Homo sapiens: one gene and its partners. The protein of the gene in region 1 purifies or fractionates together with the protein of each later gene. This does not show direct contact. Each region holds a gene or a part of one and is shown in the gene's direction. Other genes may lie near its edges.

Region 1 (3,500 bases):
AGAGGCTGCAGTGAGCCGTGATTGCCCCACCGCGTTCCAGCCTGGGCAACAGAGTGAGACTGTCTCAAGAAAAAGAGATGAAGGAAGTGAGAAGGTGCTGATTGATACTTACCTCACACTGAGCCTTTTTTCCCCCCACAGACTTATCACTGAACCATTTCACTGGGAAAGTAAAAGGACCACATATTTCTTGGCCGGGCATGGTGGCTCACGCCTGTAATCCCAGCACTTTAGGAGGCTAAGGTGGGCGGATCATGAGGTCAGGAGATCGAGACCATCCTGGCTAACACGGTGAAACCCCATCTCTACTAAAAATACAAAAAATTAGCCGGGCGTGGCGGCAGCCACCTGTAGTCCCAACTACTCAGGAGGCCGAGGCAGGAGAATGGCGTGAACCCGGGAGGCAGAGCTTGCAGTGAGCTGAGATGGTGCCACTGCACTCCAGCCTGGGCGACAGAGTGAGCCTCCGTCTCAAAAAAAAAAAAAAAAAAAAAAGAAGGACTACATATTTCTCAATGAAAATACAGTGTACAATGTTTTCCATGCAGGTGTAAATACTAACTCATGTTCTGTTTCAGGGTGGGAGATGGAATAACCTGTAGAAAGAATCTTTAGATTTGTTTAAATTATACACAAATGATAAGAGATCTTTCTGAAAGTATTGACTTTTTGGCGGGGGAGGGAAGGGGCCTGATAGAACAACCAACAATTGTACACTTTAAGTTTACATTTAGAGTTCACATTAAAAGTTCATTTACAAGGCATCTGTTTGAAATTCGTGAGGATGAGCTGGGCTGGGTGGCTCATGGCTGTAATCCCAGCCCTTGGGTGGCTGAGGTGGACAGGTCACCTGAGGTCAGGAGTTCAAGACCAGTCTGGCCAACATGGTGAAACCCCGTCTCTACTAAAAATACAAAAATTAGCTGGGTGTGGTGGTGGGCGCCTGTAATCCCAGCTACTGGGAAGGCTGAGGCAGGAGAATTGCTTGAACCCAGGAGGCAGAGGGTGCAGTGAGCTGAGATCTCACCATTGCACTCCAGCCTGGGCAACAGAGCGAGACTCCGTCTCAAAAAAAAAAAAGAATAAATCACAAGAAATGGTTCCTTCACTGTTATACTTTAACATGATACAGCTTTTTAATGTTTTATTTTTTGAGAGAGAGTCTCACTGTGTTGCCCAGGCTGGAGTGCAGTGGTGTGATCATAAATTCTTGGGCTCAAGTGATGCTCCCGCTTCAGCATCCTAAGTAGCTGGGACTACAGGCTTGTGCCACCTCACCTGGCTAATTTTTTTTATTTTTGGTAGAAATAGAATCTGTTTGCCCAGGCTGGTCTTGAACACTGGGCCTCAGGCAGTCTTTGTGCCTCAGCCTCCCAAAGTGCTGGATTAATGGTGTGAGCCACAGCACCTGGCCAATAGCTTTATTGAGATTATAATTCAACTATCATGATTTATTCATTTAAAGTGTACAGTTCAGTATTTTTTAGTATATTCACAGAGTTGTGCAGCTGTCACCACCATATAACCTTAGAACATTTCATCATCACCAAAAGAAACCCTATACTCATTAGCAGTCCCTCATATCCCCTGCTTCTACCTAGGTAACCACTAATCTACTTTGTGGCCTATAGATTTGCTTATTCTGGACATTTCATATACATGAAATCATAAAATACCTGATCTTTTATGATTGGCTTTTACTTAGCATAATATAAATTTTTTTTTTTTTTTAATTTGTAGAGACAGGGTCCTGTTATGTTGCCCAGGCTGATCTTGAATTCCTGGGCTCAAGTGATCCTCCTGCCTTGGCCTCTCAGAGTGCTGGCATTATAGGTGTGAGCCACTGCACCCAGCCATTAGCATAATATTTTAGCTGGGCACAGTGGCATGCTCCTGTAGTCCCAGCTACTAGGGTGACTGAGGCAGGAGGATCACTTGAGTCCAGGAGTTTGAGGCTGTAGTGAGCTATGATGGCATCACTGTACTTCAGCCTGAGTGACAGAGGTAGACCCTGTCTCTAAATATTTTAAGGTTCATTAAAATAATATATTTTCAATAAAATAATATTTCAATAAAATAATATTTTAAGGTTCATTCATGTTATAGCATATGTCAGTGTATGATTCCTTTTTCTGGCTGAATAATATTCCTTTGTATGGATATACCAGGTGTTTAACATTTTGAGGAACTGCTGTACAGTTTTCCAAAGCAGCTGCACCATTTTATATTCCCACTAGCAAAGTATGAGGGTTCTAATTTCTCCACATCCTTGTTTTTACCTACCTTTTTTTATTATAGTCATCCTAGTGAGTGTGAGGTGGTATCTATGGTTTCAGTTTGCACTTTCCTAATGACTAACGGTGTTGAGCCTCTTTCATGTGTTTCTTGACTGTTTCCGTATCTTTTGGAGAAAAGTGGGTTCAGATCCTTTGCCCATTTTTTAATTGGATTATTAGTTGTAAGAGTTCTTCATATATTCTGGATATAGGTCCCTTATGAGATACATGATTTGCAAACATAACCCCGCTTCTGTGGATTGTCTTTTTACTTTCTTGACAGTATCATGTGCAACAGAAAGTTTTTGATGCTGTCCGATTTCTCTGTTTTCTTTTGTCACTTGTACTTGTTATAGTATCTAAGAAACCACAAAGGCCATGAAGATTTATTTCTATGTTTTCTTATCAGAGTTTTATAATTTTCTTATAAATTTGGGTCTGTGATCTGTTTTGAGTTCATTTTTGTGTATGGTGTAAGGTAGGGGTCTGAATCCATTCTTTTGCCTGTTGATAACAAGTCGGTCTAGCACCATTTGTTGAAAGGACTGTTCTTTCCCTGATTATATTGGTAGCCTGTAGTATTGGTTTTTATATACTATTACAATTTTGGGAAAATTCAGTACAGAATTACTTGGAGCATGTTGATTTGTCTGAGAAAACTGTGAATACCAGTTTCATGATTTTAGGGTAACTACAAAATGTATATTATATTCTATCCTTTGTCAGATGTGTTAATTTAATCGTTTTATATAAGGTAAGAATGCTGTACCTCTGTCTAAACACAGAAATAACATGTATTTTAATATAAAGAATGTGGAACTTCTAAACTTTGAGGCTAATTTTTCCTGCATAAATTCTCAAATTATTGTGACATGATATTTCATAACTTTACTAGTAGAATCCTTCCCTGTGTTATTAAATATCCACTAAAGTCTCTAGTAAAGGGAATATGATTTACAGAACAAATTTAATGTGTTAGTTTAATTGGTGTTAATTTAATTATAATTGGTGAACTATTACATACTTTTCTTAGTTCCTGTTTTTTTGTTTTTTCTTTACAGCAAAGTATCCAGAGATAAAGTCCTTGATGAAACCTGATCCCAATTTGATATGGATTATAATTATGATGGTTCTCACCCAGTTGGGTGCATTTTACATAGTAAAAGACTTGGACTGGAAATGGGTCATATTTGGGGCCTATGCGTTTGGCAGTTGCATTAACCA
Region 2 (3,500 bases), on another chromosome or scaffold:
ATATATACTGTCTTAGCAAATTTCATATTATTAACTAATAAATGTGTTATTATTAACTATGGACACCAGGCTGTACATTAGACCTCCAGAACTTATTCATCCTGCCTCAGTAAAACTTTACCGTTTGACCAGTATCCTCCTATTTGCCCCACTCCCTAATCTCTGGTAACCACCATTTTCTCTCTGCTTCTATGAGCTCGGCTTTATTCCACGTATAAGTGAGATCATGTGGTATTTGTCTTTCTGTGCCTGGGTTATTTCTCATAGCAGAGTGGTTCATTCATATTGTCACAAGTGTCAACATTTCCCTCTTTTGTAATGCTGAATAGTATTCCATTGTATACTACATATACCACGTTTTCTTTATCCATTCATACGTTGATGGGCATTGAGGTTGGTTCCATATCTTGGCTCTTGTGAATAGCGCTGCAGGGAACATGGGAGTGCAGGTATGTCTCATGGGTACATGAGATTTCATTTTTTAAAAGATCACTGATGAATTTTAAGGAAGCAAGATGAGTTAGGAGACTGTATCACTTTAGTCTAGCAAAATAGGCCAGAACTGAAATACAGGTAGTAGAAGAAGGGAGAAAATAAGAGGAACAAGAACACTTAAGGAGCTAGAGTAAACCAGACTTGATGGAGAGGGTAGTGTAAGTGAAAAAGAGTGAAGGGACAAAAATAAACTCCTGGGTTTCACAGTGAAATAACCACTTCACCCACTAGGATAGCTAAAATAAAAGAGACTATAACAAATGTTGGTGAGGATGTAGAGAAATTATAACACCATACATCGCTGTGGGAGTATAAAATGGTGTAGCTGTTTTATAAAAAAATTTTGGCAGTTCCTCAAAAGGTAAAACATGGAATTACCATCTGATCCAGCAGTCCCACTCCTGGGTATATGCCCGAAAGAAATGAAAACATGTCTACACAAAAATATGTGCATGTGTATTCATAGCAGCATTATTCGTAATCACCAAAAAGTGGAAACACCAAAAAGTCCTAAAGAGGCAAATCTACAGAAAGTAGATGATTTCCACCAGGTACCTGGGGGTGTACAGTGACTGCTAATGGGTAAAGCTTTCTTTTTGGAGTGATGAAAATATTCTAAAATGGATTGTGGCAATGGCTGCACAACTCTGTGAATATACTGAAAATTATTGAATTGTATGCTTTAGTGGGTGGATTGTATAGTATGTGAATCATATTGTAGTAAAGCTATATATATATATATATATATATATATTTTTTTTTTTTTTTTTTTTGAGACGGAGTCTCTCTCTTGTCGCCCAGGCTGGAGTGCAGTGGTGCGATCTCAGCTCACTGCAACCTCTGCCTCCCAGGTTCAAGCGGTTCTCCTGCCTCAGCCTCCTGAGTAGCTGGGATTACAGGCATGCACCACCACCCCTGGCTAATTTTTGTATTTTTACTAGAGACGGGGGTTTCACCTTGTAGGCCAGGCTGGTCTCGAACTCGTGACCTTGTGATCCGCCCACCTTGCCCTCCCAAAGTGCTGGGATTACAGACGTGAGCCACCGCACCTGGCTGCTATTTTCTTCTTAAAGTCATTAGTAATATCTGCCAGAACAGTTTTAGTGGAGTGAGAGAGCCACAGCTGGAATCTAGAGAAACAGGAAGTGGGAGGTGAGGAAATCAAGGAATGAGCAAGTTGTATTCTCCTGAGATAGCTGACTATGGCAGGGAAAGAGAAGTGTAAGGGTGTGTATGAGAAGGATCAGGGTTAATGGTAGTATGTTCTTAGGTTATGGGGTGAGACAGTAGAGAGGGAAGTTGGAAAGATTTGTTTTGGCAGTATCTGTTCGAAGTTTACAGTTGCAGGCTGGGTGCGGTGGCTCATGCCTGTAACCCCAGCACTTTGGGAGGCCGAGGCGGGCGGATCACCTGAGGTCAGTAGTTCGAGACCAGCCTGGCCAACATGGCAAAACCCCGTCTCTACTAAAAATACAAAAATTAGCCGGGCGTGGTGGTGCGGGCCTGTAGTCCCAGCTACTCAGGAGGCTGAGTTGGGAGAATTGTTTGAGGTTGCAGTGAACCGAGACTGTGCCACTTCACTCCAGCCTGGGTGACAGAGTGAGACTCTGTCTCAAAAAAAAAACAGAAGACAAAGAAAGCAAGTTTACAGTTTCATATCCTATGAGCCAGCACCTCTACTTCTCAGCATCTACCCCAGAGCAGCAGAATTGCCCGGAGAACTCTTTCATACAGATTCCTGGCCCTATCCTCTAGACTCCAGAGCATCTATTCAGTGAGTGGGGGTTAGAGCTGCAGCATTTACATTTTTAACAAGCTACCAGATGATGCTGTATTTTAATAATGAAAACTTGGAAACTGAATGTTCAATAGCAGGGAAAATGTGATATAGACACAGTATGAAATACTGTGTGGCAGTCAAAAAGAATGTAGTAACTCTGGATAGTTATTTGGTATAAAACTTCATTTGGGAATAATAATTTACCCAAGGCTAGAAGAATCTAAATCAAGAAATCTTAAGTTCTCTTAGGCTCTCATTTTTAGTTTTCTCAGTTTATCAGTATGACCAAACACTCTGTATCTATACTGCCTCTTAAGTAATAGTACTTTTCTTTATTTGAACAGAGAAACTTAATATTAAGTTTGTGCCTGCTGAGGCTAGAACTGGACTACTGTCTTTCGAGGAGAGCCAGAGAATTAAGAAGCTCCATGAAGAAAACAAACAGTTCTTGTGTATACCGAGGAGGTGAGCTGAAGAAGAATTTAGAATGCCACAAAACATCCGAGGCTGCTGAGTATTCATTTTTTAAATTGCTTCTTTTTCTCAGCTGCCATTATTAGATCCAAATTACCTATTTTATTTTGGTTACTTATATGAGGAATTTTTTTCCTTCTATGATTGTTTCAGACCAAACTGGAACCAAAATACTACCCCAGAAGAACTCAAACAAGCAGAGAAAGATAACTTTCTAGAATGGAGACGTCAGCTTGTCCGGTGAGTATTATAGACTCTATGAAGACTTACTTTGAAATCCTGAGTTCAGATATTTGGCATGCTTACACAGCCATTTGTGTTTTGAAGTTTTGATTCTTTTAAGAAGGAAATGGTAGCATTCTGCTAACAAGTGCAAATAGATGTATGCACAAACAAGATTGCTAGGTGCAAATGCATCCTTGCACAGAGATCGTGAGTTGGTTACTCTGCTCAGTTCCGGGCCTTTTCCTTTCATTCCCTTCTTTGGCCATTGGGCATCCTGGAGTTGATCGCTGCTCTCCTGCACATTTTTCCAGTAAGAGTGTGGGAAAGAAATGACTTTGTGTGATAGGTAAACTTCCAGGGCATAAATAGCTTCAGGATAAAATTTGAATTTGGTGGAGTATTGTCTAAATAAATAGTATTTTTATGGTGTCTCAGCAGGAAATATATAAAATAATTTGACTCTGGATATTTGTGCCCAGTACTTATTTTTAATGTAATAAATTTGAGCATTTACACTGCTAAAAAT
Region 3 (3,500 bases), on another chromosome or scaffold:
AACAAGGGCCTTACACATGGCAAACACCATCACTACCATCAGTTCCTTCTCGGTCTTCTCCCGGGGGCCCAGTGTCTCCTGGGTTTTCCTGCCTCTTTTTGCCAGCCCTTCCTTTATGTGCCTGTGCACCTCTTGGGTCAGCACGTCACCAGTCCAGCTTACTTGCCTCTGGCCTTGCTTTCAGCCCACACCTCAAGGTCCATCAGAGAGAGGGGGCGTCCTATGTCATGACCCTGCTGAGAGCTCACACTGCCCGCTGGGCCCAGGCCCTAGGTTCTACCCCGTGTGGTGCCCCTCCCCTTCCCAACCACTCGCACACCTGTCCCCAGCCTGTCTTGCCTAATTATCCACCATTTCTGAACTGCCTGGGCTCCTCTTCCCTTCCACGCCTTTGCTCAGGCTGCCACCTCTGCCTGGATTTCCTCCCAGGTCTGCCCGCCCAGTGCCCAGCCTAAAGAACTCGGCCTCTAGGAGCCTAGCCCAGTAGCTCTGCCCCCTCCTGCCAGCTCTTCCCACAGCACCTGCAGCATCTGGTTGTGGTTTTCTTTGTTGGAAGGTTTCTACCTTCAAACTAGAAACCTTTGAAGGTCGGGATTTTGTCCAGGGCATGGTGGGCACTGAAATTATTTATGAATAAATGAATGAACACATCACTTTTTAAAATGTTGACTTCAGAAAATCACAAGTCTATGCCAGTGCTGTGTTACCAAGTTGCCAGGTTCCTCCTTGAGCCGTGCACTGTGCTCTCACAGAGGGGGATTCATCTGCCAGAGGAGTGTGGGGTTGAGGGCAGGATTGTGGGGAGGCTCCTTCTATGGGAAGGCGTGGGCCGAACAGGTGTCCCTTCATAGGAGCTGTGCCTCATAGTCTCTCTCTTATTTTCAGGCCGACTTAACATTACCTATCCCATGCTGTTCAAACTGACCAATAAGAATTCGGACCGCATGACGCATTGTGGCGTGCTGGAGTTTGTGGCTGATGAGGGCATCTGCTACCTCCCACACTGGGTGAGTGGGGCTGCCAGGGTCTCTAGAGAGCAGCCACTTAGGCAGAGACATCTCCTGCACTCGAGAGTCCTGGCCCTGGAGCAGGTGGCCCCGCCTACTCCTCCTGCTCAGCGTCTTAGCCTGAGCCGACCCAGCGAGAGAGAAGGGATCCAGAGCAGTGCACTGTGCCTTATGCGGGCTGGTGGGCTCTGGACGCACCTGTGGGCCACTGTGCTGTGGGAGTGGCCTTTTCTTTGATAGTTGCGCAGCTGAACTGTTCATCTGTGATTTCCTGGGTGAGGCGTTTTTAAAAATAATGGAGCAACAGTATTTTTTAGGTGGTCTAGTAAGTAGGGTGTTTGAGGTTTTTATGCTTTTCCCCTACTTTTAGTAGTCTGTCACAGCATACATGTTTTCAGTTACCTCTGACGTAGTCTCCCAAATCTCTCAACTGAGCTGCCATGGGAGTGACGTCTTTTTCCTTACAAGCAGGCTCTCTTTGGAAAGTTGACTTGAAGGATGTCATTGCAGATCTGGGCTGGGATATCCAGGGCGTGTGAGCCACCAGAGCCTGCCCTCAAGGCTGTACCCCTCAGAGAAGTGAGCAGAACTGTGCCAGTGCTGTAGGGAGGAGCCTGCAGCAGTGAGAGTTCCACACAGGTAGCTGTGGCCCACTTGGCTCCTTCTTCTCCTCACTCCTCTCCCCAGCTCTGGCACATTAGGGAAGTTCACAAAGGGACCTGCTTGTCCTTCTCTTTGTGCTTGGATTACATCAGGCATACTGAGAGACCCCGCAGTGAGCTGTGGGCTGGAAACTCTCAGGAGTGCTTGCTTGGCTGCCACCAGGGAGGTGGTCTGAAGCACAGCCCACCTCTCCTGCTGATGCCCTATCATGGTGGCCGCCAGACGTTCAGAAGGGATGGCCTTAACTAATATTTTCTGAGATTAAATATGAATTGAAATTCTGGCCAGGTACGGTGGCTCACGCCTCTAATCCCAGCACTTCGGAAGGCCAAAGTGGGCAGATCACTTGAGGTCAGGAGTTCGAGACTAGCCTGGCCAACATGGTGAAACCCCGTCTCTACTAAAAATACAAAGACTAGCCGGGTGTGGTGGCACGTGCCTGTAGTCCTAGCTACTTGGGAGACCGAGGCAAGAGAATGGCTTAAACCCAGGAGGCTTAGGTTGCAGTGAGCCGAGATCATGCCATTGCATTCCAGCCTGGGCGACAGAGCGAGACTCCATCTCAAAAAAAAAAAACAACAATAATATGAATCAAAATTCTGAAGGTCTCTTTCCTGCTGTAGCAGGTGACCTTGCCCATGCTGCCATGGTAGTGGCATCCTCTTCAGCCTGGGTCCCAGGGTCCTTCCCAAGGTCTGGGCCTGGCCAGTGTCTCCCCGACAAGAGCCCTGCACTCCCATTGCACCTCCTAGTGCCTGGCCTTCCCATGCTGCCTCCTCACCTCAGCTGACTAGGCCTGCCCAACCTGGCCTGTTGGGGGGCTTTTATGCCTCAAAGCCCAGATTGGCTCACCTGCCCTCCCCAGTATTTGCTGCTCAGCCCCTTGCTATTCTTGTGTTTGTCTGCAGGTGCCCCCAAGGGCCTGAGGCCACATTGTGCTCATCCGGTAGAACACCTGGTCACTGAAGCCACTCTAGGTAGCTGAAGTGTCAGGCAGTGACTACTTCCCCAGTCCCTTCTGTGGCTCACCTATAAGAGGAGGTGGTGATGCTGGGGATACACTGTATCTCGAAGGTTCTCCTTTAACCCATAGACTTGAAGTTTGGGTGGCCTCTTGTCCAAGCTGTTGGACTGCTTTAGACCAGGAAACTAATTGAACCCTTTCTCCCCTGGAAAGCCTCTTTAGGTAGCCTGGAGCTGGTTTGGGGTGTGAAGCCATCAGGCCACCTCTTCCCCTGAGCTGGCCTTCCAGCTCCTGGCATGGGCAGGCGGGTGACAGGTATACCCCATCTGCTGTCTTGGAGGGCATGTGAGCCAGTGCTTTTTCTGGGCTGGCTGGTGGACTCCATCCCACCCATGCTCCCAAGCTTCTTCAGGGCGAGCCAGCCTGGAATAGGTACTGGCCTTTTTCCTTGTAGCCAAGGCTTCGTCTGCTGACCTAGATCCGAGCCCTGGACTAGCCGTTTGTGACATGTGGGTACTCGGCTGCCCGTTGTGCTGTATGCTCTAAAATGCTGCATGGGGAGGGCCAGGCATCAGCTCCTCCTGCCTGCTTAGTGCTCTCAGGCCTCTTCCAGCAGCCCATTTCTCACCTCAAGCCCTAGTCTGACCTCTCTGCCTGTCCTCCTCACATCACCTATGGCAGTGTCCTGCCTCTGGCTGAGGAAGCCACCCCCCATCCCTGGCCAGCCTTCCCTCAGGCTTGCAATTGCAGCCCAGTATCCTTCCCCTCGCTGACAAATTTCCCACAAAAATCTACCCAGGGACAGTGCGCCTGGCCTGCGACTGGCTAACTCTGAGCCTTAGAATACTTCCTGTTAGAACATCACT
Region 4 (3,500 bases), on another chromosome or scaffold:
TCCTTGGTAGCACCTTGGACCAGATATCTTCTGAAGACTTCCAGTTCTTACAAGATCTCCAACATAGGGAGACAGAATTTCCTGAAATCTTTACATCCTCAGAGCCATTCAGCTTCAATTTTCTTTCAATCCAGGCTCAAGACATTGAAACGCTAAAGAAATTTCTCCTGAATAAGAAGCCTCATGTAGTGACAGTTGCAGGAGAGAACAGGTAGGTAGGGATTAGACCACACCTGGTTTAAGGCCGTGACCCAACTCATCCCTTATTATTGAGTCTGGCATATGCCCATAACAGATGGGGCTTGTGCTTGTGCAGGGAGTGTCCCTGGGGATGTTTGACCTCATTTTCTTCAAAGCCCTTTCCTCCCCTACCTCTTCACCCCCAAGGCAGTCATGAGACTGTCCATCCCTAAGAAAACATATTCATTGACCAACACTCATCCCACCAGGGACGCCCAGATGTTGATTGAAGATGTGAAGCGCATTGTACATGAGCTGGACCAGGGCCAGCAGCTGTCATCTATTGGGGTAGAGCTGGTTGACAACGAGTTGGCCATTCTCTATATGAACAGCAAGAAGTCAGAGGTAATGCTGGAGCCTCACCCTTAGGGCCTGCCCAGGCAAGTGCTATTAATCCCAAAGAGATTAAATTGGGAAACAAAAGTTATCAGGGGCACAGGACTGTACCTGTGTACTTATCCATGCAGAAGTTCTCCGTTTTGCAGTTACGGTTCAGATTGGGAGTCCCAGAAATTAAATCGGTCTCAGGAAAAAAGATCCCAGAGAAGCAGAGAAAATGATTTAAACCAGAATGGTTTGGATTTCCTCTTGATGTTGTAGCTAAGGGGATTTTAAGGCCCTGCTGACCCTCGTTTGACTCTAGGCAGAGTTCCGGGATTATCCTCCAGTGCTGAGACAGGCCGTCTCCCTGGCCCGGCGCATCCAGGACCCTCTGATTGAATTTGCCCAGGTGTGCAGTTCCGATGAAGACATCCTGTGTCTCAAGTTTCACCCCTTGCAGGTGAGTAGGATTTGACAGGCAGGCTCGGGTGAAGGGAAAGGCAGAGTAACCTTACTCCTGCCTGCTGAATGTCCACAGGAGCATGTGGTGAAAGAGGAGCTGCTCAACGCCTTGTACTGTGAATTTATCAACCGAGTCAATGAGGTCGGGGTCGATGTCAACCGTGCCATTGCCCACCCTTACAGCCAGGCCTTGATCCAGTATGTTTGTGGCCTGGGACCTCGGAAAGGGACCCACCTCCTGAAGGTAGGATTGGAGTGAATTCAGAAATTTTAAAACTTGCCATTTCATTGAATATGAATATATACTTTGTCAGTATAATTTGACAGATTGGGAGGACCAAGGTCAGTGACTTGTCCAAAATCACTCAGCTAGTGAGAGTCAAAAGAGTCTGACTTCAGACCCAGTTGGCCAAAGCTGTGCCCTTCACTGCTGCTTGCACCACCACACCCAGCTAATTTTTTGTATTTTTAGTAGAGACGGGGTTTCACCATGTTGGCCAGACTGGTCTCAAACTCCTGACCCCAGGTGATCCACCCGCCTCAGCCTCCCAAAGTGCTGGGATTACAGGCATGAGCCACTGCGCCCGGCCAACTAGTGTTAACTTGTAACTTATAAGCCATACATTAGTTGTATATGGTCTTTGGTGTAGGTATAACATCATTTATTTGTTTATTATTTTCCCATTTAAAGCAAAACTTTTTTTTTTTTTTTTTTAATTTTGAGTGGTCGATAGCATGCTGTAGTGCTCAACTAGATACTGGGTGGGACAGAGTTTTTGTTATGAGGGTTTAATAGAGACTGGAACAGTCTGGGGAGGTGGGGCCTGCTTACTGCCCTGGCTCAGTCCAGCTCTCTCCCCCAGATCCTGAAGCAGAACAACACCCGGCTCGAGAGCCGGACCCAGCTGGTCACCATGTGCCACATGGGTCCCAAAGTCTTCATGAATTGTGCTGGCTTCCTCAAGATCGACACGGCCTCCCTGGGGGACAGGTGATGCCCTCTGCCTGGATGGGGCAGGAGGAATTCCCTTGTGGGCTTTGTTTTCGGGTTTCAGGGGTTAGGGCTATCAAAGGGCCACAAGCCATTTTAACTTAGGAAATGTTTTAAAGAAAAGGTAAGGAACTTTATTCAGTCAAGAGCCCCTGACCTATGGAAAAGATCGGTTCAATCATGTGAAACATTTTTCGTGTGAGAGAAACATAAAAAGTACCAGCTTAGCTTATAAATTAAGCATGGAAAACACAAGATTTTGTTCAGTAAACACAAACTTGCTTTTTTATTATTATGGTTTGTTGTGGCCAGATAAGGGTGGGAATAGCGGGGGCAATGAAAAAGGAGTTTGGGGGTATAAAGAGATAAGGAAGGGGGAGAGAGATTTGGTATGTTTTGAGATGATGTTATTAAGAGAAAGTTCTATTCACTTGGACTTTGGACTTCACTATTGACCTCTTCCTCTCCAGAAGTTATCAACTCAGTCTTTGGAGGATCTTTTCCACGGGCACATAGCTCCTCATTCAGTAATGGAAATCAGTGGGGAAATAGGCTTCAAGTTCTAAAACTTCATTTTCCACTCAGCTTTGCTGTAACACTCCACGAATAACATAGGTCCATGTGAGTGCACGGGCAAGACCAGCCTGGGAAGGCTTTATGGGGGAAAATAGCTATCAGCAAATTTTCAAAGGTTTTTTTCCCCTTTCTTGATTTATCTTATTATGAGACTCATATAAGTTCATCATATAAAATTCAACATATAGAAATATTATGCAGAAAGTGGAAGTCCCCCATAATCCCACCCCCCAGAGATAACTACCATAACAATTTTATGTATACTACAGTTTTTCTAAATTTTATTTTTGCTATGCATTTACTAACTACCCATTTACTACAAAAATGGGATCATATGGTTCATAGTGTTTTTGCAGTGCATTTTTCACGTATCAATATATTGTGGCCATCTTTCCATGTCAGCACACATAGATCTACCTCATTCTTGTTAATGGCTGTATAGTATTCCATTGTATGGAGGTGCCCTAATTTATTTAACCAGTTCCCCATTGGTGGACATTTGGGTTGTTACTAGAAGCTTATCGTTCTATATCCTGTTCCTTTTCTGCCTTTCCTCCAGCACTGACTCATATATTGAAGTCCTTGATGGTTCCCGTGTCCACCCTGAGACTTATGAGTGGGCTAGGAAGATGGCAGTGGATGCCCTGGAATACGATGAATCAGCCGAGGATGCCAATCCTGCAGGAGCCCTTGAAGAAATCTTGGAAAACCCAGAGCGACTGAAAGACCTGGACCTTGATGCCTTTGCAGAAGAGCTGGAGAGGCAGGTAAGGGACAGCATGGAAGGCCCGGCAGGAGAACCCATCCCAAGTGGCCAGGTTGGTAGGAGACTTGGGCAGTGAGTGTGCAGAGAAAGCCTGATACTGTTAGTATGGCAGACTTGATCCTCATCTCCCTGCCCTGCTCTACT
Region 5 (3,500 bases), on another chromosome or scaffold:
CTGGGAAGGTAAATATCTGATTAGCTTAGAATAAACATTTCTTTCTGAGGCTGAGGAGGGGGATTGGGATATTAAATATCCCAATAGACTTATGTTTTTTCTGCCAGAAAGAATGAGGAATGGCTATTGATAGGGAGCCAACAATGTGTGCTGGAGGGGGCTCATTGGAGAAATTTGAGCAGGGGAGCCACAAGATTAAATTTGAGTATTAAGGCATTCTGGTTATGGTGTAAAATGGGTTAGCAAGCTTTTTCTTTAAAGGACCAGGTGGGAAATATTTTGGACTATGTGGTCTCTGTCATATCTACTTAACCGTGCTGTTGTCTGCTGTTGTAGTGTGAAAGCCACCATGATTATATGTAAGCAAACAGGCATGACTGAGCTCCTATAAAACTTTATTTACAAAACCATAATGCAGATTGGATTTGGCCTGTGGCCTATAGTTTCCTGGGATTGATGGGAGATAATCATGCAAAGAAACCAGGAGACAAAGGAAGCTTTTGCAGTAGTCAGCTATAGTTTCCATGTCACACATCCTTGGAGTAGCATCAATGTATTACAAGGTTTTCACCCGTCCATGGTGAAATAAATAACGTTAGAAATCTCAGTTACTCATTTTACTATGTTGGCCTTCGTTATGCCCTTTTCACTTGTTTTGCTTAATTTTTTTTCCTGTAAGAAATAACATTAATAGTTGGCAGTTTTCTTTTAAATAGAAGTCATTTTGTAAATGTTTGTGTTCCCAGTGGCAGTGGGAATATAAAACAGAGGCAGAAGAGAGGTATAGTCAATATGATTTAGTGATAATTGAATGAGAAAGGCTTGGGGGACAGAGAGAAATCTCAGATGATGTACAGGTTTCCAGATTGCACACTAGTATTTAACCTGGACATGAGGAAGGAGTAGGAAATTTTCTGGTGAATACAGAAGAGCAAAGAGCAGCAGGTCAGCAGGAATGACTAATGTTTTTCGATGCATGTTTAATGGAATATTCGTGTAGGGTATTTTGAGTAGGTAATTGGATAATCAGCATTTATAACTCGCATCCTACTAGTTTGACTCTAAGTAATAAGACTTGTCAAAGATCCAAGAATCTGAAAGTCAGTAATAAATGTCCATGTGCATCATCGTCCGTGACAGAAAGTCAGCATCCACAGAACACAGAATTGGGACAGATGAACTTAATAGATAAAGATGAATATCGGAGTTGTTCCTCTTAGGGAATGATACTCTCCATGACCTGTGTGAGTCACAGCTGCCAGAAAAGAAAGAGCAAGGAGCGTATGAAGGCAGCACAGCAAATTCGGTCCTAGAGTGCCCTGCTTGGCTTCATGTCATAGTTCTGACTTCTAAATAATCATTTTCTGCAAAATGTGCTTTGTGTTTTTCCCTCTTGCCGCCTGCAGCCAATCAGAATCTTTTTAGCAGGACATAATGAAAAGAAGTAAGAGAAAGAGTGTTTTTTTGTAATGGGATAGTATTTAACGTAAACTTGAGAGTGAGTACCAGGATTATACTTAGAATTTATGGACTGGATGGGAAGACTGGATAGAAATCTAAAGATTGCTGACTCAAACACAATGTGGTTTCTTTGATTTATTTTCACAGCTCTGAATTCACGACTGTTAATTGTATTCATATGCATTATAACTTTACAAAGCATCTTCCGAAACCAAATATTTACTGATTTATTATAATTTGTATGACTTTATTATAGAACTGACTTTCCAAGTGTTCATGAGAATTGTTTAGAATTTGCTACATTGTATCATCTCAGCTGTGTCCACATGAGCTATCTGTCACCTTGTCTTAATGAATAATTGTTCACTAGGAATATTGGTTTTGGCATTGAAATGATCTATATCTAAATGCAGATAGGACCCGGGACCACTTTTGAACATTAATGTTCAAGCATCTTAAAATTACACATAATGCTTTCATAATCTGACTTCTGCCCCACTCTCCATCTTTAGCCCTTTTCCCTGTGTGCCCTGTCTCTGGCATTACTGAACTGCTGGCAGTGCCCTACTCACTCATCCTTCTATTGTAGGCAAATACTTTCACTCTTTCAGGAGTCGCTCCCGCTCTTGCTGCTGCGTGGCATGCCGTCACCCTTTCCTGCCCTCTACACCTTTTAATCTGGCTAGTCTCAATATTTAAGTCTCTGCTTGGGCATGTGTTCTAGAAAAGCCATCTCTGACATGCTTTATTTTAATTCTTTTTAAACCCTAATGCCTAGCATGTATTTAGCAGGACTCAATAAAATATTTCTGAGTAAAACAAAGACTGTTTTTACAAAGATGATGTGCAAGACTCTCCCCTGCAGTCTTGGAGCAGAGGGGACAGACGTGGAGGAATAATGTACAGTTTAGGTGGTCAAGATGCAGTAGAAAAATCAGTAAAGTACTAAGGCAGCCTCAAGGAAGGAGGTACCTGTTTATTTGGGGAAAGACATGCAGAATCAAGGAAAACTTCATATAGCATTGTTTCAAAAGATGAAAATAAGGCCAGGTGTGGTGGCTCACACCTGTAATCCCAGCACTTTCAGAGGGAATCACGAGGTCAGGAGATCGAGACCATCCTGTCCAATGGTGAAACCCCATCTCTACTAAAAATACAAAAATCAGCTGGGTGTGGTGGTGCTTGCCTGTAATCACAGTTACTCAGGAGACTGAAGCAGGAGAATCACTTGAACCAGGGTCGCGGAGGTTGCAGTGAGCTGATCACACCACTGCATTCCAGCCTGGTGACAGAGGAAGACTCTAGCTCATAAAAAAAAAAAAAGAAAAAAGAAAAAAAGAAAATAAATTTGTCAGAATAGTGGAGAGAAACATTTTAGATATTAGGAAGATGTTGTACACTAATAAAGGTGTCAGCAGTGATTTTGGAAATCATTTATAAGGTACTATTAGGAAGTGGAGAACAGTACACTGTGTCACCTTATATGTTTCTACTGTATTTTAAAGCTGTGTTTCTGGTGGTTTTGTTCATGGATGTTGGGTGGATGAATTTGTGAGGGAATTTTTGACATGTTTGTTTGTCTTCAATCTGGTGACATCTGCTATCTCCCCAAGTGGGTTTTTGAAGTTTTTGAGAATTATTTCTTAAATGACAATTTCACAAAAGATGAAACACTCAATTTATGAAATAAAATGAAATGTCTCAAATCTGTTTTTAAAAGGCAATAGTTTTTAACTGTTTTAAGTGGTTGATTTTAACTGAATGTATGGATTTTTCAACAGAACAAGACTTAAAGCTGACATCAGAGGAAGAGTCACAAAGGCTTAAAGGCAGTGAAAATGGCCAGCCAGAGGCATGGAAACTTTTAAATTTAAACTTTTGTTTAATGTTGTGTTTTTTTTGCCTTAATAATATTAGATAGTCCAAATGAAATTACCTTTCAGACTAGGCTTTGAGAATCAGTAGATTGTTTTTTTAAGAATCTTTTGGCCAGGCAAGGTGGCTCACGCCTGTAATCCCAGCACTTTGAGAGGCTGAGG
Region 6 (3,500 bases), on another chromosome or scaffold:
TTATTAGCCAAATTGGTAATGTTGAAATAGCAGCCATGGTATAAAACCAGAGGATTACTAATGTTCAGATAACCATTTCTCTAAGCATTTAAGGATAGTGTTATCTACACTTGAAAGTTAAAGTATGGAGGAGCAGCTTGATCTAATGGAAGCTCTGGCTTTAAGAGTCCAGAGAGCAAGATTCCAGTCTCTGCTGTTTCATTAACTTTAGTTAACTGTACAAATCCTGTGTCTGAGTACAATATATGCACTTTTTTTGTACCATGGTTTCTTTATGCTAATGTCTGTCATGGTAAATTACATTCTTCAGTTCTCATGTTAGATGTTTGTCTTCGGATCACAGGTACCCTCTTACCAATTATACTTTTGGTACAAAAGAGCCCCTCTACGAGAAGGACAGCTCTGTTGCAGCCAGATTTCAGCGCATGAGGGAAGAATTTGATAAAATTGGAATGAGGAGGACTGTAGAAGGGGTTCTGATTGTACATGAGCACCGGCTACCCCATGTGTTACTGCTGCAGCTGGGAACAACTTTCTTCAAACTGTAAGTAGTGTTGGAAATTAACAGCAAGACAGTTTTTAGTAGGATTGCTGTTTATGCAGCTCTGGAATACAATTTTAGCCCTCGGTCATTCATTTCAACAAACACTGCTGTTAATGATGTCTTTAGAAAGAGAAAATCATGAGTAATTTTTCTCCATTGCAGTGCTCATTTATTTTCCTAACTAGTAATCTGTATGTTTCTGTATGTTGTTGATGTTAATGATTGAGCTTGGTAGAAACCCCATGGAATAGTTGAGTCCAAGATCAATGTCTAGATGTCATTGTAGCATTACCAAGAACAATTGATATTTCTTTCTTGGTATGATTAGCATTTCCTGTTCTTAAGATGACTTAGGTTTTTGTGGATAACAGTTTAGTGTTTTATCATTTAAGCTCCTACATCTCTCAAACATTTGATCCGTAACTATTTGACTAGATTATACCAAAAAGAAAAGTCTCCAATACTTAGATGACGTTCTTGAAAAAGTTTCCCATTCTTTAGGCCTAAAGAATGTGATCCATTCCTCTCTGAGCATTTCTAGACTCCATTATCATCAGATAGCTCCCAGAGAGGAGATTGGGATGGACTGGTGGTTAGCAATTTTGTTTATGTTTGTGCTATGTTATATATTCTGTTTGTTTAAAACTAGGGTTTATGTGATGGGTACATATGGACATAAAGTTGGAAAAAATAAACACTGTATACTCCAAAGGTGGGGAGGGTGAGGGGGAGGCGAGGGTTGAAATACTTCCTATTGGATGTTATGTTCACTGTTTCAGTGATGGGTTCACTAGAAGCCTAAACCTTAGCATTACACAATATACCTATGTAACAAACTTGTACATGTACCCGTTGAATCTACAATAAAATAAAAATAAATATATACGAAGAGGAAAAAAACCTAGGGTTTGTATACTGTTAGTCTGGGGAATTGACATGAATTCAAGCATATTCTCCCCCTTCACTTTGATACTTGTTTTGATTGCCTTATTATGCTGAAATATGTTCTTAGTGACTTGGTAGAAATAACAATTATTGTGTTATTTGTTATCTCCAAATTGTATTAAGTTGAAAGCTGAAATTCTTAACTTTTATACAGACCTGGTGGTGAACTTAACCCAGGAGAAGATGAAGTTGAAGGACTAAAACGCTTAATGACAGAGGTATTTTTCTGTTTAACCACTTTGAATACCATCAACTTACTAGTTATTTGGCTTTTAATGTCTTGTAAAAAGGATGCTTATTTTGGAATATTTAGTTTTCAATAAATACAACTTAAACTCCAGAAGGTTAGTACAATGTTGATTTTTTTTTACAAGTTGAAGTTACACTTATTTCAATTTTTAAAATGTTAAACTGTGTCACAGCAATGGTAAATTAAAACTGACATTTAAGTATTACTGTGCTAGACACTGTTCTGAGTGCTTTACATGCGCTAATTCCTTTAATCACCACCACAACTGTAGGAAGTAGATATTATTAAGTTTAAATTACTTCTTGTTATATAGCTAGTGTGTTGTAGAGCCAGAGGTTTGAATGCAGGTAGTTTTGTTCAAGAGTAGGCCTCTATAGAATTTTGAAAAGAGAAAGATGCCTGTGTTTTCACTTTTTTCACATATTTTTTAGACTTTGCCCAAATTATTCTACTTTTTAAAAATCATTGTAATGCCTGCATGTAAAGACTTGGGGCCAAATGCATAGATACTGAGGATTTTGAGATTGTAAATTGTTTTCAATGTTAGTTTTCTTCTTTAACATTCAATTGCCGCCTGCCCCTGTTACAAAGCTCATATATTCTCTGTGCAAAAAGCTTGGCAAACACAGAAAAGCAAAGGAGAAACAAAACTAAAGTCACCCGTAATTCTCCCACTTTTGACCTATTGGTTTGTCTTTCTAGTATTTCTAAAAATGTATTATAACTCTTAAACATTTTCCTGTGCTTGGACTTCCATTTATATAATGTATGGTACAAAGATATAAGTCCATTAAGGTTGAGGGAGTGCAAAATGAGAGAATCACAAAAGCAAAATTTTTGGAAACTGGAAAACAGATGGGCAAATTATAACTAACTTAGCAGAAACCTTAGTCCAGCAGACAGGCAGGCAGAATCTAGCATTGCAGAGTACCAGAATGACTGAGGAACTGAAGGTGCTAGGTACTTATGAAAGTGGGGGCATGCATGGGCTGAAAACTGGACTGGTTCAAAGTATATATGGAGTATATTTATACAGGTTGTGTATTCCTTATCTGAGAGCTTGGGACCAGAAGTGTTTAGCTGCTATTTGATAGCACAACAGGGTGACTATAGTCAATAATCACTTAATTGTAAATTTAAAAATAACTAAAAGAGTATAATTGGATTGTTTGTAGCACAAAGGATAAATGCTTGAGGGGGTGGATATCCCATTCTCCATGATGTGAATATTACGCATTGCATGCCTGTATCAAAACATCTTGTGTACTCAAAAAAATTAAAAATTAAAAAAGTGGTTAGGATTTGGGATTTTTTTCAGGTTTTGGAATATTTGCATTATACTTACCAGTTAAGCATCCCATATACAAAACTTGAAATGCTCCAATGAGCATTTCCTTTTTTTTTTTCTTGAGACGAAGTCTCTCTCTTGTCACCCAGGCTGGAGTGCAATGGTGCAATCTTGTCTCACTGTCACCTCCGCCTCCCGGGTTTAAGCGATTCTCCGGCCTCAGCCTCCCGAGTAGATGGGATTAAAGGTGCCTGCCTCCACGCCCAGCTAATTTTTGTATTTTTAGTAGAGACAGGGTTTCACCATGTTGACCAGGCTGGTCTAGAACTCCTAACCTCAGGTGATCTGCCTGTCTTGGCCTTCCAAAGTGCTGGGATTACAGGCATGAGCCACCACGCCCGGCCTGAGCATGTCCTGTGAGCATCATGTCAGTGCTCAAAAAGTTTGAGATTTTGGAGTTTCAGATTGGGATG
Region 7 (2,913 bases), on another chromosome or scaffold:
AAAAGACTTGCTTTTCCTCATTGGCTTGCTTTGGTGTCTGTACTGATAATCAAATAACCATAAAAATATTCTGTTCTGGGCTCTCTGCTCTGTTCCATTGATCTATTTGTTGATCCTTACCTAGTACCACTCTGTTTTATCTTTAGTCTTGAAGTCAGATTTGAAATCAGTTTTATGTCCTCCAACTCAGTTCTTTTTCCAAGATTGCTTTGGATATCCTAGGTCCTTTGCATTTTTATATGCATTTTAGAATCAGCTTGTCAGTTTCTACATGGGTGTGACTTTTTAGTATATTATTTTGGGTTCATTAAATCTCATTTTCTTCCATACATTTATAATGACATTTGAGGTTTGATTGGAAGGTTTTCATATTGACTTTTAACTAGGGCTTTCTTGGGACAAACAGAATATTCTACTATATTCCCAAACTAGATTACCATCTTATGATTCAAACTTTCCATATATTTAACCCAGATATATATTTTCAGAAAAAGTAATTGGAAAAGTTATGTGATCAGTCAAGTACTGTTTTCCTAAAATGTGGTATTGAAAATCTCCTGGAATTTTTAATAATTCATGTTGTTTTATGTGAAAAGAATGTCATCTTTTTATTATATTATCTGTACATTTGCTGTTCATCTAAAATGTAGATAATATCACCCCAGGCTAAAAAGGATGAGAAAGAATTTAAACTGATTCTTATAACTTTTTCTTTTTTTTAGGGCGTCATCGTTGTATTGGGGAAAATTTTGCCTATGTTCAAATTAAGACAATTTGGTCCACTATGCTTCGTTTATATGAATTTGATCTCATTGATGGATACTTTCCCACTGTGAATTATACAACTATGATTCACACCCCTGAAAACCCAGTTATCCGTTACAAACGAAGATCAAAATGAAAAAGGTTGCAAGGAACGAATATATGTGATTATCACTGTAAGCCACAAAGGCATTCGAAGAGAATGAAGTGTACAAAACAACTCTTGTAGTTTACTGTTTTTTTAAGTGTGTAATTCTAAAAGCCAGTTTATGATTTAGGATTTTGTTAACTGAATGGTTCTATCAAATATAATAGCATTTGAAACATTTTCTAATAGTTATGATACTTATACATGTGCTTTCAGGAAGTTCCTTGGTGAAACAATTGTTGAGGGGGGATCTAGGTAATTGGCAGATTCTAAATAATATAATTTCCAGATAGTAATTTTAAGAGTACTCATCGCTCTTGCCAAATAAGTTCAGGGTATTCAAATCTTGGACTAGTCCTGCAAGGTATAAAGAATAAAAATCCCAGTGAGATACTTGGAAACCACAGTTTATTATTATTTATCTGGGCAATTATTGTGTGTGTGAGGATGGAAGGGTAGGGAATAATCGAACATCTAAAGCCTTGAATAAGAGAATACTAATTGTTTTGGTATGATGATACTCAGAAATGGAGATATTATAGGAAAAAGAAATCCTTTGGAATTTTAACTAAAATCACTGCATATGGGAAATTAAGAGATCCAGGACCATATTTGATAAGAGTTCCTAAAAATAATGTAATTATTAATGCTAAAGACTGCTCATGTATCTTGATCTAATTACTAAATAATTACATATTTATTTACCTGATAAATATGTATCTAGTTCTACAAGGTCACATTTATGTGGAAGTCCAAAGTCAAGTCCTTAGGGGATAATTTTGTTTTGGCTCAGTTGTTCCCTGCTTCCTTTTTTTTTTTTTTTTTTTGAGATGGAGTCTCGCTCTGTTGCCCAGGCTGGAGTGCAGTGGTGCGATCTCAGCTCACTGCATCCTCTGCCTCCCGGGTTCAAGCAATTCTCTGCCTCAGCCTCCCAAGTAGTTGGGATTACAGGCACCTGCCACCATGCCTGGCTAATTTTTTGTATTTTTAGTAGAGACGGGGGTTTCACTATGTTGGCTAGGCTGGTCTTGAACTCCTGACCTCGTGATCCACCCGCCTTGGCCTCCCAAAGTGCTGGGATTACAGGCATGAGCCACCGCACCTGGCCTTCCCTGCTTCCTCTCTAGAATCCAATTAGGGATGTTTGTTACTACTCATATTGATTAAAACAGTTAACAAACTTTTTTCTTTTTAAAATGTGAGATCAGTGAACTCTGGTTTTAAGATAATCTGAAACAAGGTCCTTGGGAGTAATAAAATTGGTCACATTCTGTAAAGCACATTCTGTTTAGGAATCAACTTATCTCAAATTGTAACTCGGGGCCTAACTATATGAGATGGCTGAAAAAATACCACATCGTCTGTTTTCACTAGGTGATGCCAAAATATTTTGCTTTATGTATATTACAGTTCTTTTTAAAACACTGGAAGACTCATGTTAAACTCTAATTGTGAAGGCAGAATCTCTGCTAATTTTTCAGATTAAAATTCTCTTTGAAAAAATACAGTCTGTATTCATGAATTGTAAAATATGTGCTTCAGTGAGCAGAGTTAGGGAATCCAGGAACTTGGGTGGGGAAAAATTACATCTTTATTTGCACTAATAATTTCTAACTGCAATTTAGTATTTATTTCAATTATGAATTTGGGCAGCATTTTATTAGCAGTATCCATGATTTTGTCAATAGAAATCTCAGATATTTTCATATTACAGATGTTACAGATTTCTTGAAGTATCTAGTTACGACCCCGAGATAAGGCTAGTCTAATGTTTAGTGAATAGTTTTAGACTTCTTAACAGATTTCATTTTTAATCACAGACTAATTAATTATTGAGATGCATAAACAAGTGTGATTGCAGAGGCCTACTATCATAAGGAGGCGTGGTGGTCAAACAATGGCACTGAACTCAGCTTGATCAGATCATTTGTCCATCTGTTTTTTTCTCCACTGTCTCTTAGAGCAGAATAGCCTTGAATGGCAAGCCATGCTAGCTGAAAAAG

What was found.
Region 2: the proteins of DEGS1 (region 1) and LSG1 purify together in Homo sapiens (affinity purification with mass spectrometry, with the first as the bait; one large-scale study listed by BioGRID). This does not show direct contact.
Region 3: the proteins of DEGS1 (region 1) and UFD1 purify together in Homo sapiens (affinity purification with mass spectrometry, with the first as the bait; one large-scale study listed by BioGRID). This does not show direct contact.
Region 4: the proteins of DEGS1 (region 1) and SUPT6H purify together in Homo sapiens (affinity purification with mass spectrometry, with the first as the bait; one large-scale study listed by BioGRID). This does not show direct contact.
Region 5: the proteins of DEGS1 (region 1) and POTEE purify together in Homo sapiens (affinity purification with mass spectrometry; one large-scale study listed by BioGRID and IntAct). This does not show direct contact.
Region 6: the proteins of DEGS1 (region 1) and NUDT21 purify together in Homo sapiens (co-immunoprecipitation; one large-scale study listed by IntAct). This does not show direct contact.
Region 7: the proteins of DEGS1 (region 1) and CYP51A1 purify together in Homo sapiens (affinity purification with mass spectrometry; one large-scale study listed by BioGRID and IntAct). This does not show direct contact.

The regions. Positions count from the first base shown.
Region 1 is NC_000001.11:224,186,240-224,189,739, forward strand, and holds part of DEGS1 (sphingolipid delta(4)-desaturase DES1), read left to right. Parts: intron 1-3,337; coding exon 3,338-3,500. UniProt on the Homo sapiens protein: Has sphingolipid-delta-4-desaturase activity. Converts D-erythro-sphinganine to D-erythro-sphingosine (E-sphing-4-enine). Catalyzes the equilibrium isomerization of retinols.
Region 2 is NC_000003.12:194,665,692-194,669,191, reverse strand, and holds part of LSG1 (large subunit GTPase 1 homolog), read left to right. Parts: intron 1-2,619; coding exon 2,620-2,740; intron 2,741-2,902; coding exon 2,903-2,989; intron 2,990-3,500. UniProt on the Homo sapiens protein: Functions as a GTPase. May act by mediating the release of NMD3 from the 60S ribosomal subunit after export into the cytoplasm during the 60S ribosomal subunit maturation.
Region 3 is NC_000022.11:19,469,194-19,472,693, reverse strand, and holds part of UFD1 (ubiquitin recognition factor in ER-associated degradation protein 1), read left to right. Parts: intron 1-885; coding exon 886-1,007; intron 1,008-3,500. UniProt on the Homo sapiens protein: Essential component of the ubiquitin-dependent proteolytic pathway which degrades ubiquitin fusion proteins.
Region 4 is NC_000017.11:28,686,205-28,689,704, forward strand, and holds part of SUPT6H (transcription elongation factor SPT6), read left to right. Parts: intron 1-134; coding exon 135-211; intron 212-449; coding exon 450-585; intron 586-883; coding exon 884-1,021; intron 1,022-1,099; coding exon 1,100-1,267; intron 1,268-1,886; coding exon 1,887-2,014; intron 2,015-2,484; coding exon of another isoform or gene 2,485-2,530; exon of another isoform or gene 2,531-2,635; intron 2,636-3,149; coding exon 3,150-3,357; intron 3,358-3,500.
Region 5 is NC_000002.12:131,247,536-131,251,035, forward strand, and holds part of POTEE (POTE ankyrin domain family member E), read left to right. Parts: intron 1-3,242; coding exon 3,243-3,313; intron 3,314-3,500.
Region 6 is NC_000016.10:56,444,833-56,448,332, reverse strand, and holds part of NUDT21 (cleavage and polyadenylation specificity factor subunit 5), read left to right. Parts: intron 1-343; coding exon 344-544; intron 545-1,643; coding exon 1,644-1,707; intron 1,708-3,500. UniProt on the Homo sapiens protein: Component of the cleavage factor Im (CFIm) complex that functions as an activator of the pre-mRNA 3'-end cleavage and polyadenylation processing required for the maturation of pre-mRNA into functional mRNAs.
Region 7 is NC_000007.14:92,111,653-92,114,565, reverse strand, and holds the end of CYP51A1 (lanosterol 14-alpha demethylase), read left to right. Parts: intron 1-722; coding exon 723-901; 3' UTR 902-2,413; downstream 2,414-2,913. UniProt on the Homo sapiens protein: Sterol 14alpha-demethylase that plays a critical role in the cholesterol biosynthesis pathway, being cholesterol the major sterol component in mammalian membranes as well as a precursor for bile acid and steroid hormone synthesis.